Regions from separate parts of the Homo sapiens genome. Here region 1 is linked to region 2. The links come from fine-mapping of genetic effects on gene expression. A gene starts in region 2. The other region holds a variant in brackets. All regions are shown on one strand. Distances are from middle to middle. Region 1 overlaps LOC100630923 (LOC100289561-PRKRIP1 readthrough). Region 2 holds the start of PRKRIP1 (PRKR interacting protein 1).

Evidence for each region. PIP is the estimated chance that this variant, and not a neighbour inherited with it, causes the effect.
Region 1: its variant is the best candidate, but not a certain one, in a credible set for the expression of PRKRIP1 in monocytes after Pam3CSK4 (Quach 2016, PIP 0.68).

What each region holds. Positions count from the first base shown.
Region 1 is chr7:102,366,378-102,369,287 of GRCh38, reverse strand. All of the region lies in intron 2 of LOC100630923 (LOC100289561-PRKRIP1 readthrough), which reads right to left. It also overlaps the pseudogene LOC100289561. Among named protein-coding and RNA genes, the nearest start is that of SPDYE6, 11 kb to the right of the region's middle. The variant C/T (reference allele first, on the strand shown) is at 1,383.
Region 2 is chr7:102,394,691-102,397,600 of GRCh38, reverse strand. It overlaps PRKRIP1 (PRKR interacting protein 1), which reads right to left and starts at 1,238. Exons shown (of 6, transcript NM_024653.4): 1 at 1,064-1,238. The coding sequence starts at 1,189. All of the region lies in intron 4 of LOC100630923 (LOC100289561-PRKRIP1 readthrough), which reads right to left. RefSeq lists enhancers at 720-1,261, 1,043-1,282 and a silencer at 1,303-1,382.

The sequences.
Region 1 (2,910 bases), 28 kb after region 2:
TATTTTGCAAATATATCTCAAAAGGACTCAGAAACCAACTTAAAGGGATTCCGTCTGGCCAAAGATGGAACCACTTTAGCATTTTATTTTGAAATCATATAAATTTATATATATTTGCTATCAAATATATACATATATTTGCTATCAAATATATATGTATATATTTGCTATCAAATATATATTATATGTATATATTTGCTATCAAATATATATTATATGCATATATTTGCTATCAAATATATATTATATGTATATATTTGCTATCAAATATATATTATATGTATACATTTGCTATCATATATATCAAATATATCTCAAAAGGACTCAGAAACCAACTTAAAGGGATTCCGTCTGGCCAAAGATGGAACCACTTAATTTTCAAAAAGAATCACAACTTCTATGTACTGAAATATTTACTATCTGTTTAAACCCATGAGCTCATGATGGTTAACAAAACAAAATACCCTCCTGCTTAAAAGCCTACTCAATATTTTAGAAACTGTCTTTCCTGCATGAATTACATAAACAAACAGAGAATAGAAATTTATCTTTAGAAAAGTATTCTAGGCCAGCCGTGGTGGCTCATGCCTATAATCCCAACACTGGGAGGTCAAAGAAGAGGATCACTTGAGCCCAGTTCCAGACCAGCCTGGGCAACATAGAGAAACCTGTCTCTACTAAAAATTTAAAAATCCGCTGGGCATTGTGGCATATGACTATACTCCCAGCTACTTGGGAGGCTGAAGTGGGAGGATCACTTGAGCACAGGAGTTTGAGGCTGCAGTGAGCCATAAACGTGCCAGCCTGGGTGACAGAGTGAGACTCTGTCTCCAAAAAAAGAAAAGAAAGGTATTTTGGCTAGTAAATAAAGAAGAAATGGTAGAATTAGCAGATCACCATTTTGCCTCCCCTAATGAAGGCAAATCACAGCAATAGTAAATCACAGCAATAATCAACAGTCAATAGTTCTTAACTTCACAAAAACAAAGAAGGTAACACGTGCCTCCAGAAGTAGACAAATGCCACATATGGTATAGTTGTGTGAAAAGAACTGAACATAAACCTGATTAGACTTCCAGATCAAACTACCAATTTTACCAAGGCATAAAAGATATTTTTTAAAAATGTGCTAAAGGTGAAACAAGGGTAACACAATCCAAACTGAAGATAACCAACCCAGTTTCTTCAAAACAATAAGCACACAGGAGACATACTATGGGAACTATTAAAAGATTTAACCCAACTGCCACATGTATTAAGAAAGAGAGTATTATGGGTTATTCCTAGCCCCTTTTAAAAAGATTCCTTATTGGCCAGGTGTGGTGGCTTACACCTGTAATCCTACCACTTTGGGAGGCCAAAGTGAAAGGACTGCTTGAGGC[C/T]AGGAGTTTGAGACCAGCCTGAGCAATACAGTGAGAGTACATTTCTAGGCCGGGAGCAGTGGCGCATGCCTGTAATCCTAACACTTTGGGACGCCGAGGCGGGCAGACTGCCTGAGCTCAGGAGTTCGACATGCATGACACGGTGAAAGCCAGTCTCTACTAAAATACAAAAAAACTAGCGAGGTGTGGCAGCGTGCACCTGTAGTCCCAGCTACGCGGGAGGCTGAGGCAAGAGGATCGTGTGGGCCCGGGAGATTGAGGTTGCAGTGAGTTGTGATCATGTCTCTACACTCCAGCCTGGGCGACAGAGCAAGACCCTATCTCAAAAAAAGAAAAAAAGAAACAAAACAAAACAGACTTCACCATTTAAAGACAAACAAATACTTACAGATGAATCTTTTCAAAAGCCAAGAAAAGAGAGACTCCATGGAGAAAATATCAGTTTGGAAGTAACGGATGTCAAAGGCAGACAAAGGGTCCTGTGAGGAAGGGGCTAGGAAATGCCCGCTGGATTTGACTGCAATTAAATCACTGGTCACCTTTACTGACTGACTTAGCAAAGTGAAAAGGACAAAACGAAAACACTGAGAAGTGAAATGAGAAACAGAAATGAGGAAATCTTCACAAGAGAGTACTGTTTGTATTGTTTGCTGTGCAACCCGAACAAAAAGACGAACAAATATTTGACGGATGATCACGTCATTCATTCCCCCCATGATCTAGGACTCAACAGTAAAAACAGAATTGTTTACTTGGATCACGATATTTCCGTCCCTGGAAAAATTATGCACCAAGTTCTCCTTGGGCAGCAGGCCCTCTGCTTACATAAGCACCGAGAATAAGCCATAAGTTACAGTAATTTAATGGTTGTTGTTAGGAAAGCTATCCACAATTATATCAACTTGAATGAAGAAATTTTTCCAAGTCCTAGAAAATCTTTTAAATGCACAAGTAACAAAACTGGTTTCTCCTTATAATCAATGCAAACGATGTCATGGATGGTGATATGGTTTCGGTGTGTGTCGCCTCCCAAATCTCATGTTCAATTGTAATCCCCAATGTTCCCTCTTCCTCCTGCTCTGGTGATGGAAGATGCACCCGCTTTCCCTTCACCTTTCACCTGACTGTAAGTTTCCTGAGGCCTCCTCAGCCATGCTTCCTATGATAGAGCCTGCAGACGTGAGCCAATTAAACCTTTTTTCTTTATAAATTACCCAGTCTTGGTTATTTCTCTATAGCAGTGTGAGAATGGACTAATACAGATGGCATTTTCCTTTTGTGATGACTGCCAAGAATATCAGTCCTAGGTGCGGCTCAATTTCAACAGCCTTAAAATATACTACCCATACATACAAGCTTCACAAATCATTTTTGGTGCTGATCTGCCACACTAACTATATTTTACAGGATAATGTCTATTTCCACATTCCCATTTTAAAGTATGAATCCTGGCTGGGCTCGGTGGCTCATGCCTGTAATCCCAGCACTTTGGGAGGCTGAGGCGGGAGGATCACCTGAGGTCAGGAGT
Region 2 (2,910 bases):
AAGCATTTAAGTATAAACCTGTTGACAAAATTATATATCTCCCTCTCTTTTTTTAGAGACAGGTTCTTGCTCTGTTCCTCAGGCTGGAGTGCAGTGGTGCAATCAGAGCTCACTGCAGCCTTGAACTCCTGGGCTCAAGTGATCCTCCCGGTTCAGTCTCCAGAATAGTTAGGACTCTCAGGCGTACACCACCACACCAGGCAATTTTTTTATTTTTGTAAAGACAGGGACCCACTATGTTGCCCAGGCTGGTCTTGAACTCCTTCCTGGCCTCGGACCATCCTCCCGCCTGGCCTCCCAAAGCGCTGAAATTACAGGCAGGGGCCACAGCACCCAGCCCAAGTTACATCTCTTAAGACCAAAGAATTTTAATTGACTAATGAAGCAGGACTGCTTTGCTACTTGGACACAGAGCTGATTTTGTGTTCTTCCCTCTGTCGTGGCTTTTTTCATCCTATGTACTCTTGGGTATAACACAGTCCACACCTTCCCAGGGCTACGCTTTCCAGAGCAGAACTGAAAAACCTAAGCCATAGTTTCCAGCTAGAAACCGCCAACTTTAACACTACTAGATAAGAAGAGTCAAGCTTTTCTAGTTAAAGGTATAAAGGACGTTCCCGTTCAATTGTTTTTATGATTGAGGGGACCGAGGCCCAGAGGGGGTGTGAGCGGGAGAGGAGTGACCAGCTCCAAACGTCTCGGCCACTGTCTCTCTAACGATCAGTGTTGTTTAGAGTATACCCTTTTGCTAACCCACAAATTCTACCTTTTCAGTCTAACGCTTTTTGTTCACAGAAAGTTAAACCAGAAGGGGTCTTGGAGCACGGGAAGCCGCTCCACCGTGCTTTGATTCAAGCTGGGCTCTCACACAAGGACAGACGGGAAGTTCACTATCTCCGGGACAGCCTCCTTCTCCTCCTCCTCCCCAAAGACTGCTCTTGGAGGGTCGGATACTGAGTTTCTGAGTTTGGAGGCGGGGAAGGTGGACCTGCGGGAACCCTGAAGCGCTGCAGAGGAAGGGGGTGGGCCTCGGACGGGCCGTGGAGCCTGGGCCTCGTCTCACCGGGTTCTTCATGAGCCGCTCCAGCTTGAGCTTCTGCTCCTCCGCCGCATTCTTGGGGATGACGAGCGTCTGCGGCTCTTTCTTGGGCCTCGGTGGTCGCACCGAGGAGGCGGCTGGGCTAGCCATGGCAGCCTTCCAGTTTCACAAGCGAGCGGCGGCGTCGGCGCGCAAGTATGACGACACAGCCGCGCGCCGGCGACGCATACGCAGTCTCCGCAGAGGGGAACGGAGGCGGGGTTGCAAGGCGCAAGCAGCCTGCTGAATATTCATGAGCCTGAGGCTGGCGTGGGTTATTGTGTTCAAAGCTGCGGGGTTTCATTTCCTGTTCCTGAACAACAAATCAGTGCAGCTAGATGCTCACGTCCCTGAAGGGGAGGTGGCCCTCCGTGCCTGAGTAGCCTGGCCCTAGCCGACCTCTCCAGTCCCCGCGGGCGTCTTCGTGCCACCGAGCAGCCCCGCTGATGCTCTCGGCACCTCCTCCCCGTCGGCTCTCCTCGCCTCCCGGCTTTGTCCGGGCACTTCCTTGGATCTGGTGCCCCCTCCTCCATTTCTGACAATCTCCTGTTTACATAAGACAGCGCAAACATGTCACTGAGCTTCCTGAAGACTGGGACATTCCTCCTTTGTCCGCCTTGAATTACTCTATACCTGGCCCCCCGCAAATACACCTCTGCCAATGAATGACCGTCTCGTAGTGTGAGGCACAGTAATAAACCTAAGGAACCATGTCTGCTCATTCTGCTTGCGAGCAGGATTTCACAAAGGCCGTGACTCGGTGACTGAGCGCAGCCCTCTCCAATAACGCCCTGAACAATAAGCTGGGAAGAGCGAGAGAGAACACAGGTTTCCACCTCTCTTGCCTGAACACTGCATTTTTAGAAAAGACAAGTTCAATGATCCTAGCCCCTGCCTCTTCCTGTACATAATCTCTGACGGGATTAATGATTATGCTTCTATAACTTTTTTTTTTTTTTTAGAGACAGGGTCTCGCTTGGTTGCCCAGGCTGGAGTGCAGGGGCTCGATCATAGGTCACTGCTGCCTTGAACTCCCGGGTTCAGGCACTCCTCCCACCTCAGCCTCCTGAGTAGCTGAGACTACAGGCGCATGCCACCACACCCAGTTAATTTTTTATTTTTATTTTTTGCAGAGACAAGGTGTTGCTGTGATGCCCAGGCTGGTCTTGAACTCCTGGGCTCAAGCGATCCTCCTGCCTGGGCCTCCGAAAGTGCTGAAATTATAGGTGTTAAGTCACCATGCCCAGCCAAGCCTCTGTAATCTGTAACTAGATAATACCCTCACACACAGCCTTGATGAAATTTTGCTCTATTGTTAACTTCTGAGCACATTAGATATAACTTTTTTTTTTTTTTTTTGAGACAGAGTCTCACTCTGTCCCCCAGGCTAGAGCTCAGTGATGCAATCTCGGCTGACTGCAGCCTCTGCCTCCCAGGTTCAAGTGATCCTCCTGCTTCAGTCTCCTGAGTAGCTGGGAATACAGGTGCACGCCACCACGCCTGGCTAATTATTGTATTTTTAGTAGAGATGGAGTTTCACCATGTTGGCCAGGCTTGTCTCGAACTCCTGACATCAGGTGATCCACCCGCCTCAGCCTCCCAAAGTGCTGGGATTATAGGCATGAGCCACCACGCCCAGCTTGATATAACTTCTGAGCACATGCAGGGCACCACCAACTGTATATAAATGTTTTTATATAAACTGTATATAAATATAAATATATAAATGTGTGCTGAAACTCTGTTTTGGAGCAGTTTAACAAACTCTGTGAAAGACTTTCCCTGGTTACAGTCCTCAGTAAGATTGCAAAAAACCAACCTTAATTTTTTAA